Regions from separate parts of the Homo sapiens genome. Here region 1 is linked to region 2. The links come from fine-mapping of genetic effects on gene expression. A gene starts in region 2. The other region holds a variant in brackets. All regions are shown on one strand. Distances are from middle to middle.

Region 1 (5,381 bases), 24 kb after region 2:
ACCTCAGCACCTAGTGAGGCTAAGGCGGGTGGATCACTTGAAGTCAGGAGTTTGAGACCAGCCTGGCTAACATGGTGAAACCCCATCTCTACTAAAAATAAAAAAATTAGCCAGGCATGGTGGCACACGCCTGTAATTCCAGCTACTCGGGAGGCTGAGGCACGAGAATTGTTTGTACCCGGAAGGTGGAGGTTATAGTGAGCTGAGATCGCGCCATTCCACTCCAGCCTGGCCGAAAGAGTAAGACTCTGTCCCCCCTCCAAAAAAAAAGGTACCCACTAGCATTTTTTCCTTTTTTCTTTTTCTTTCTTTCTTTTTTTTTTTTTTTTGAGACAGAGTTTCGCTCTTGTCACCCAGGCTGGAGTGGAATGGCGCAATCTTGGCTCACTGTGACCTCTGCCTCCCAGGTTCAAGCGATTCTCCTGCCTCAGCCTCCCAGCCTCCCAAGTAGCTGGGATTATAGATGACTGCCAACACCCCTGGCTAATTTTTTGTATTTTTAGTAGAGATGGGGTTTCACCATGTTGGCCAGGCTGGTCTCGAACTCCTGACCTCAAGTGATCTGCCAGCCTTGGCCCCGCAAAGTACTGAGATTACAGGCATGAGCCACCACACCCAGCCCTTTTTTTTTTTTTGAGTTGGTGTCTCTGTCCTCCAGGCTGAGGCGCAGTAGCCCAATCAAGGCTCACTGCAACCTCTGCCTCCCGGGTTCAAGCAATTCACCTGCCTCAGCCTCCCAAGTAGCTGGGATTACAGGCATATGCCACCATGCCCAGCTAATTTTTGTATTTTTAGTAGAGACAGGGTTTCACCATGTTGGCCAGGCTGGTCTCGAACTCCTGACCTCAGGTGATCCACCCACCTTAGCCTCCCAAAGTGCTGGGATTACAGGCATGAGCCACCGCGCCTGGCCCATTTTTAGTTTTTTTTAAATTTATTTTTGAGACAGGGTCTTGTTCTGTTGCTCAGGCTGGAGTGCAATAGTGCAATCAGAGTTCAGTGCAGTTTCAACCTCCAGGGTTCAAAGCGATCCTCCCACCTCAGCCTCCCGAGTAGCTGGGACTACAGGCATGGACCACCATGCCGGACTAATTTATTTTTTGTAGAGACAGGGTCTCACTATGTTGCCTGGCTGGTCTTGAACTCCTGGGCTCAACTGATCTGCTGACCTCGGCCTCTCAAAGTGCTGGGATTATAGGTGTGAGCTACCATGCCCAGCCCTTACTTGGATTTTATTTTATTTTTTTCAAGACGGAGTCTTGCTCTGTTGCCCAGGCTAGAGTGCAGTGGCATGGTCTTGGCTCACTGCAACCTCTGCCTCCCAGTTTCAAGCAGTTCTCCTGCCTCAGCCTCCTGAGTAGTTGGGATTACAGGTGTGCGCCACCACACCTGGCTAATTTTTGTATTTTTAGTAGAGATGGGGTTTCACCATGTTGGCCAGGCTGGTCTCAAACTCCTGGCCTCAAAGCATTCCACCCACCTCAGCCTCCGAAAGTGCTGGGATTATAGGCATGAGCCACCATGCCTGGTCCTCTACTGGCATTTTAAATGAGCAGAGAGTAAGGGGTTTCCTTGGTGTTTTGAAATGATGCTTGCCTGCTACTGTGTACCAGAGGTTTCAATGTGTGTGGGACAAGTACAAGACAGAGTGAAAACTGGTGGACAGCTGCCCTGAAGTCTGATATTGAAGGATCAAACATCTCCTTTGTGATTGTCCCCGCTTCACTGAGTCTCCTTTGCTTACTCATACCCCAATCTTCTAAGGACATACCCAATTTTACTTTGTCTTTGTATGGACCAATAAAAGAGGCTAGAACTGAGATAAGAGATGTTCTACTTAGGGGCACATTGGAGACTAGGGCCCAGGAAGAATATGAAGACCTGAACTCTACAGCTTTAATGTAAGTATCATGGCACAAAATGAGATATGGGACTTCAGGAATAATTTATTCAATGCTAAATAAGGTGAGGAGTGGCAAGTCTAAAATACATACCCTCTATGTACATTCTAATCTTGTTCATCCTCTACAGGTACAACAATATACACATTCACTCACCCAACTCACCATTTCCTGGCAGCTAAAATGACAGGATCTTCTCTACAACTTATCCCCACCCCCATCAGTCATAC[C/T]CACCTTCTGGAAGTCAGATCCTTCAGGTGATTGCCTACTGGCCACAAGGGCACCCATCATTTCCGTGGCCTCTGTGGTTTCTATCCCTGCCTTTCTGGGGGCAGAAATGTCTGCTGCAGTCCTTCCTTTTGGAAATCTGAAGACTTTTGGAATTGCCCCTGAAAAGAAAGGAAGATAAGTGGGTGAGAGTCTGTAACAATGTGACCATAGTCATCCTTAGGAAGGTGGTTACAGGAAGGCTGGGTGGAAACTTAGCAGGGACAGAGTGTCAGAGAGACGAAATAAAATAATATCTTAATATGGCTGATTTTATCTCTGCTTTCTCCACATCCTCTACCTTTTGTTCTCCCGTTATGTAACTCTGCCTCTGTTTTCACCCTGTTCGTTCACTTCCCTTAAACATACTCATTTCCCTTATTTTCTACAAAACTTCTTTCTTGCCTAATCCTCCACAAATGGAACCAAAGCCTGTAAATCTTTAAATCATTACATCTAGATGTTATCTTCTGTCCTTTTGCATGCGACAGACTTTTTTTATCTTTTGTGTACCTGTATTACTTTGTGAAACAGGTATCTTGATTTATATCATTTAATGTCCAAGTGCTTGTACAACATTAATGAATATGAACAACCAGTTCAACAGAGGTTGGGGAAAGAATGGGAAGAGGAAGAGAGGAAGAAGGAAAGAATGGTAAGACATTCCTGAAGAAGGTATGTTGCCCAGCATCGATGGGAATAGAAGAATTTAGGAAGTCTTGAGGGAAAAGCAGCAGGACCTATTTGTAATGATGGAAAACAGACAAGAGGTGTGAAGGAAAACAGGGATGCACTGAGTAGGAGAGACACAACTTAAAAAAAATAATTTTAATACAGAAAAGTATACAGAGGGGTAAAAAAAAAACTGGCCTATAATTCCACAGCACTGGATAACCCTTACTACATGTTATCATTTTATACATGTATGTGTGTGCATGTGTATAGTTTATAAAACATTTATATTTTATAGAAAATGCATTTTCATGGTCACAATGTTGAAACAAAACAGAAGATACAAAATAAAAAGTGATAGCATTCCTTTTCCCTCTCCCAAAGGCAACCTTTTTTGGTTACGATTTAGTTTTGATGAGATGACAAGAGGATGCTGGAGACCATAAACTGTTGAATTACTTCTTCAACCAAATCAGAGGGGTTTGGGGTTTGACTGACTTCAGCATGCTTATGAAGTCTGGCTGGAAGGAAAAAGGAGGCCATTTGAAAACTGGATCCCCAAAACCTTTTGTTTTTGCTAACTGTAAGGTCAGTTTAACTCCTTCTCATCCTCAGTTTCTCTTCTAGGAGCTGCAGAAGCAGTGTTCCCATCATGGCCTGGTGCCATTATTCCAGAATGCTGTTGAAGTGAGGGAACCAATGGCAACCTTGACATGCCTCAATGATACAGTGCTTTGTATACAAAGACCCAGGACAGAAGCAAGAGGACAGCTGGCTTCTAGAGTGCTAAACACCCAGAAAATACAATAGGCAATTTACAGTTTTTACTGACTTATAATTTGCTAAGTATTCACAATTTGTTAATAAAAACAGCTACTATTACCACATTGATTCTTTCAATGAATTTTTATTGAGTACCTGCTATATGCCAGACAACTGTGCACTGTGAATACAATGATTAAAAAAATAGTAAGCAAAGACAGACTTCTTGCTTTGGGGAGTTTATCATGTACTTAAGGGGAGCATATATTAATCAAAGAAACATAAATGTAAAATTACAACCACATTAAATGCTACAACATAAACATACATGTTTTATATGTATTCTTCTGGAAGTGTATATGGGTTGAGGGCAAATCAGGAGAGTTGTGATTTTAAGAGTAGAAGATTTTCATTATAAATTCAACTTCGTGGCTTATCGATGAATATTGTATACACAACTTAGTTAAAAATTACATAAAAATTACTGCAATTTTAAACTCTAAAGAGATGTGCTCACAAAACTATTTGTCCATGTTCTCACATAAATCGTTAATAAATGAAGACTTTGTTTAGGTTCTTATCCTAGATTTAGTATGTAAGCTTTGTTAAGGTGAGAACCAAGGTTTAGGGATATATATTAATATATCAACAAAGCTTGCCTATATATGTTTATATATATATTATCTATATTATATATATAAAAGAAACTATACTATATATAGTATATATAAAACTATATACATATATACATATATATATATGTAAAAGAAACTACCTCACTTATTTCTGTTACAGGCTACATCCTCTCTGAACCCTCCTCCAATTTTTAAAATTACACTTTATGTTCCTATTGGATGCATGTGTCCTGTATGTCCACCTCCCCACCCCATTCTTCCTCAGTCCTGGAATCTGGCAGACTGATAAATTGACTATGTGCTGGCATGCTCTGCTACCAAAATACTAACTTTCTGACTTTTTAGAAAGATGAAGTGTCATGGGCGAAGTAATACTTAACTATATTATTCAGCAATATTAGCAGAATATTATGTGCCCTGTGAATATAATATGGCTTGTAAAGCAGGAAGCCCCCCATTTGCAAGGCCAGGGGGAATTTTTAGCGGGTTATACACCTTAGGTAAAATTAGGTATTTGCCCAAATTTAAACATAATTGCTGATCATCTGCTTCTCACAATTGAGGATATCTGATAAAAGTTGTTCCTGATGTTTGTAAAATTTAAAACATAGTTATATTACACCATAAGCTGCATTTAAAATTCAGGGCCCATTTCTTCCATGTGCCTAAGTCTCCTAAGTTGAAAGTTTATTCAGTACTGTGATAGTAGAGAACAACAAAAAAATATGCTCTATCTCCAGCTACTGGGTTAGAATTCTGTCCTTCCTTTCACCTGTCTTCTCTGGATAGGTTCCAAAGCTAGATCCCACTAACCAAAAGGAAGGAGGCAGCAACACTTCCTGCCCAGAATACAGAATCCTCAAAGTTCTCCCTCTGCTGGTTCAAGGAAGATATAAAGAATGTCACTCCCGTAACTCTTAAGTGAGCATTATTTTTGAAAAAGCCGGATTGGTAGATGCCTTTGGTGTAAATCCTGAAGTTATCCAGAGAATACAAGAGGAGTTACTACCAAAGCTTAGGCTCAAAGTACTCCAGCCCTAGCTACCTGAACTAGTTCTGCCCTTCCTACAATAAATTTTGCCTCTTTTTCTCTTCTCACTCAAGTAGCCCCCTCCTAACCTACAGGGTAAGATTTCAATGCCCT
Region 2 (5,381 bases):
CAACCCCCATGGGACTGGAGATTTTTGTAGCTTCCATTGGACCATGAGGGGCATGATGGGAGGCCTGAGTTAGGGTGACCTTTTTTGTGAGCGTCTCATTTGAATTTTATCTTCACTGGGTCATAGATGTAGCAGCCCACATCGCCAATGTTCACACCTGAGAGAGAGAGCCCTATCACCAAAGGCCCTGGGTCTGTGGTGCAGGGTTCAGGCCTAGAGGGAACTTGGTGGGGGGGCCAGGGTATGCTTAACCACAGGGGAAGTTGTCCACACATACCCACAGACCATGTACATGCCATACTTCAGGCATGTACATGCCATCCCAGTGTCTGGGATGGGGCTGCCCACCTTTGGGGCCAAACAGGTAGCCGTAGCAGGGGACGTGGCAGTAGGGGACTCCATCATGCTGAGACACAGAGAGAAAGAGAGCTGTCTCAGCCTGGTTCTCTTCCCATCTCCAGCCTCCTCCCAACATAACCACTCATTCCTGCCCTGCTCACCTCAGCATGACTCCCAGCAGTCAGGGTCTTGTGGCAACGCTGGCACCTCAGACACGGTCGGTGCCAATTTCTGCCTAATGACATCACCTTCTCAGCTGGTGGTGGAAAGAAGTGGTAATGCTTCCATTCTAGGGGTAGAGTAGGGAGACCTACCTGCCTTGGATCACCTCCCTCCCCCTTGCTGCCCACCCTGTATCCCCCTCCCCAAGTTTTCCACTGTTACTTACCAAAATAGACGGGCTCCCCACAGCCAGGGCACAGCGAGGTCTCCCCAGTGAATGTCTTCATATGGGGAGGGCCTTTAAAGGGGAAGAGGCCCTGGCTATGTCTGAGGTGGAGATGCCCACCAGCACCTGCCTGCATATGGTGCTGTCCTCTTTCAAAAGCCATGCTCATTCCAGAGTGCCCCACCCAGGCGCCCAAGAGTCTGCCTTCTACAGGCCCAGAGCTGAGCCCCCTCTGACTCCACCTCCTGCCCCATCCCTATGTGTATTAGGGACTATCTGCTTCCTTCTCCTGCTTCCTTTTCATCCTCCCAGGGGCTCACGTACCCACCATCCCAACCCTGTTAGCAACTCAATCCTCAGGAAACTTGAGCTGATATAGGAGCTGGCCACAGCACGGGTGTCAGGTGTTGGGGAGCACAGTGTCATTGCCTACTTCAGGGAATGGAGGGAAAGAACAGGGACCAGAGGAGAAAAGTTGAAGAATATGAGAGGCTGGCCTTATCCCAATGACTCCTCTCCTTTAGATCATTCCTTCCATGGCCCTGGCCTGGGACAGACCTAAGTTCCTGGCCAGCTTTGCCTCTGACTAGCTTTGTGGATGGACAGTCATTTGCCCTGTCTGGATCTCACTTTCCTCACCTGTAACACACGAGGAGAGGGGATAATGCCATCTGCCCAATTAACCTCTTTTTTTTTTTTTTTTTTTTTTTTTGAGATGGAGTCTCGCTCTGTTGCCCAGGCTGGAGTGCAATGGCATGACCTTGACTCACTGCAACCTCCGCCTCCTGGGTTCAAATGATTCTCCTGCCTCAGCCTCCCAAGTAGCTGGGATTACAGGCATGAGCCACCACACCTGGCTAATTTTTGTATTTTTAGTAGAGATGGGATTTCACCATGCTGGCCAGGCTGGTCTCGAACTCCTGACCTCATGATCCACCTGCCTCGGCCTCCCAACAATTTACCTCTTAACTCAGCAGCTCACATGAGGGAATAGAAAGAAAGAAAGAAAAAAAAAGCGGGGAGTAGATAGAGAAGACTTTGCCAAGAATGAAGTTGTGAGAATGTGAAGCAGAGGGCTGGATAGGAGACTGCCACCTGGCCCAACCTCCGCTCCAGCTTGGGGAAGGGTCGGGAGGAGGACTGGGAGGAGCTGAGCCCAGCCTTACTTTTCTTGCCTTGGGGGAGGCCAGTCCTTGGCCTGGGAGGGCTGAAGCTGCTGGGGCTGAGAGGAGTGGTGCAGCCAGGGCTGGGAGTGGGGGGATTGTACAAGTAGGAGCCTACACCACCAATGTTCACCCCTGAAGAGAGAATAGGGGAGGTCAGGCTTGAGCCCCCAGCTCCCAGCCACAAGGAGGGTTCTGCTGACCCATGGCCCCTTAAGGCTGGTACTTACCCCTGGGTCCAAAGAGAGCCCCATAGCATGGCTTGTGGCAGTATGGCCTCCCATTGTGCTGGGCACAAGCAGAGGGAAGTGGGTTACTCAAGGCCAGCGGGAGCCATGCCCCACAGGCCTTCACCCCAGACAGGCTGCCAGGTGTGTCTGTCCACTGGCTGAGTCTGGTGGGCCTGGGAGGGGTGGGGGATGGGCTGGCATGCCAGCATTTCCACTGTGGTCAAGGGAGGAAGAGCAAGAGCAGCTCAGAAGGTGACGCTGCTTCCCACTCACCCTGATCCCCAAAACCATGGGATCCACAGTCACGACCCAGGTTCCCAAATTCCTGGCTGGTGTGGGGTCCACCAGGTGGGCGGCCTTGGGGTTGGCTACTGAGGTTCCCTTTGGCAGGCCTCCAGTGCTGAAGTTGGGGGCTGGTGCCTGGGGGGTGGGAGGCAGTGATGTAAACAGGGCAGTGCTCCCTGGCCAGGTCTTACCTCTGCATGCCCGCCAGGGGACAGGATGCTGTGGCAGCGCTCACATTTCAGGCAGAAGCGGTGCCAGTTCTTGCCCAGGGAGCTCACCTTCTCAGCTGTGGAGGACAAAGTGGAACCGAGCTGCGAGGAGCCTGTCCAAGCATAGGGCCCCTCCTTTCCCTCTTCGGCCCTCTAGGGAATTAGGTTGGCCTGCCCTGCTTCCTGGAGATGAGTGTCTCCAGGAGGCCAGCTCCATCCCGCTCCGGTTTCACACTCCCCACAGAGCTCTCAGAGGAAGGGAGAAGACCCGAGTGGGAGCGGGTGGTGCGGAGACTACCAGCCGCTGCAGGTGAAAAGGGTGTCTGGGACTACACTGTGGCTAGCCCTCCGCGTCCTCAGGGAATCCAGCGGCTCCCATTCGCCCCATCTTCTCCCCCTCCGCAGCCCGGGCCTCACCGAAGAAAACAGGTTGCTGGCAACGCGGACAGGTCCAGCTCATAGCTCCGCTCCAGGCAGCGCACGCGGCACACAGTAGGTACGCCGCTGCGGCTCAGTTCCGCCCCCTCCGCAGGCTCCACCCACGGCTCAGCTTTGAGCCTCCCTGGGCGGAATCCGCGGTTCCTCGGCGCTCATTGGTTATCAGAAATTTAGAACCACTCCACTTGGGAGACAAAGGGCTATTTCGCTGTTACTTCAAAGAGCATTAAAGCCTCGGTCAGACCCACGGGGAGGAGAGAGGATCTTGAAGCCGTGGACTCCAGACTAGGAAGGCACATGTGTAACGAAGACACCTGGACAGGGAGCTCTACTAGTTTCTGGAGCGGTAAGGACAGGAAAAATGTCCACAGTGCAGACATCATTAAAACACTACTCTCTCCAAAGCGAGGGAGTAGGCATTCTTTGAAATGCAAAATTCCACCTTGGCAGTATAGCAAGTGGTTGAAAGCAACAAAATCTGGAGCCCGTCTCTGGTACCCTACTCTTTGACTTCAGGCAAATTACTGAACCTCCCTCTCTGCCTCCATTTTCTCATCTGTGCAATGAGTATGATAACAGTCTCTGCCTCATAGGATTGTTATGAGAGTTAAATAGGTTAATACATGTAGAGTGCCCAAACAGCGCCTGGCATGTAAACGCTGTAACAGCTATAGCTATCACTATGATGGATCCCTTAATGAACTCAAGACTCGGTTTGGAAGCCTCAGAACATGGTCTGTATACAATCGTTTACTCCTAAAGCTGTAGGGTGGCTGGACACAGTGGCTGACACCTGTAATCCCAGCACTTTGGGAGGCCAAGGTGGGCGGATCGCCTGAGGTCAGGAGTCCAAGACCAGCCTGGCCATCGAGGCGAAACTGCGTCTCTACTAAAAATACAAAAATTAGCTGGGCGTGGTGGCGCATGCCTGTAATCTCAGCTACTCGGGAGGCTGAGGCAGGAGAATCGCATGAACCGGGAGGTGTGGAGGTTGCAGTGAGCCGAGATCGCACCACTGTACTCCAGCCTGGGGGACAAGAGCGAGACTCCATCTCAAAATAAATAAATAAATAAAAATGAAAACCAACTACACATTTCTAATCTGGTTTGCTTTAAAATTTTTAAATATTTGTGTTTTTAATGAATGTATTTATTTGAGGCAGGGTCTCTGTTGCCCAGGCTGGAATGTAGTGGTGCATCGTAGCTCACTGCAGTCTCCACCTGCCCGGCTCAAGCGATCCTCTCACTTTAGCCTCTGGAGTAGCTGGGACTACAGACACATGCCACCACACCTGGCTAATTTTTGTATTTTTTGTAGAGATGGGGTTTTGCCATGTTGCCCAGGCTGGTCTCGAATTTCTGGGCTCAAGCGATCCACCTGCCTGGGCCTCCCTAAGTGCTGGGATTACAGGTATATGCCCCCATGCCCAGATAAATATTTGTTAAAAGTAGTTCAATAGACTCTCTGGCACCATTAAAGAGATCCTGGGGACTGCCCAGTCTGTGGGCTGTAATGTTGATGGCCGCCACCCTCATGACATCATAGATGATATCAACAGTGGTTCTGTGGAATGCCCAGCCAGTTAAGCACAAAGGAAAATATTTCAATAAAGGATCATTTGACAACTGGTGGAAAAAAAAAAAAGTAGTTCAATAGTGCTTCAAAGGATATTTCAAGAAATTTAAATCCAGAGAATGGAAGAAATATTTGCAAATCTGATAAGGATCTAGTAACCAGATTATATAAATAACTTATAATGCAATAACAAAAAGACAACCCAATTAAAAGTGAGCAAAGTATTTGAATAGATGTTTTTCTAGAGATACACAAATGGCCAATAAGCACATGAAGAGATGCTGAATATCAATAGTCATTAGGGAAATGCAAATTAGGACCACAATGAGATACCATTTTATACTGACTAGGATGGTTATAATTAAAGAGACAAATATTGGCAAGAATGTGGCAAAATTGGATCCCTCATACATTGTTGGTGGCAACATAAAATGGTGTGGCCACATTGGACAACAGTCTGGCAGTTCCTCAAAAAGTTAAACATAGAGTTACCATATGACTCAGCAATTCCACTTCCAGGTTTATACCCAGGTATATAAGAGAAATGAAAACATATGTCTATACAAAAACTTGTACATGAATGTTCATAGCAGGACTATTTACAATAGTCAAAAGGTAGAAACAGCCCAAAAGTTCATTAACTGATAATGGATAAACAATATGTAGTATATCTGTATGATAGAATATTGCTCAACTGTAAAAAAGAATGTAATACTGATGCATGTTACAACACAGGTAAACCATAAAAACATT

Evidence for each region. PIP is the estimated chance that this variant, and not a neighbour inherited with it, causes the effect.
Region 1: its variant is the best candidate, but not a certain one, in a credible set for the expression of CRIP3 in whole blood (INTERVAL, PIP 0.56).

What each region holds. Positions count from the first base shown.
Region 1 is chr6:43,329,563-43,334,943 of GRCh38, forward strand. No RefSeq gene overlaps it. Among named protein-coding and RNA genes, the nearest start is that of CRIP3, 23 kb to the left of the region's middle. The variant C/T (reference allele first, on the strand shown) is at 2,132.
Region 2 is chr6:43,305,719-43,311,099 of GRCh38, forward strand. CRIP3 (cysteine rich protein 3) reads right to left here and starts at 3,108. Exons shown (of 8, transcript NM_206922.3): 1 at 3,032-3,108; 2 at 2,597-2,691; 3 at 2,121-2,178; 4 at 1,894-2,025; 5 at 728-799; 6 at 501-595; 7 at 349-406; 8 at 1-157. The coding sequence starts at 3,074. The coding sequence ends at 96. It also overlaps the pseudogene RPL12P47. RefSeq lists an enhancer at 1,768-2,625.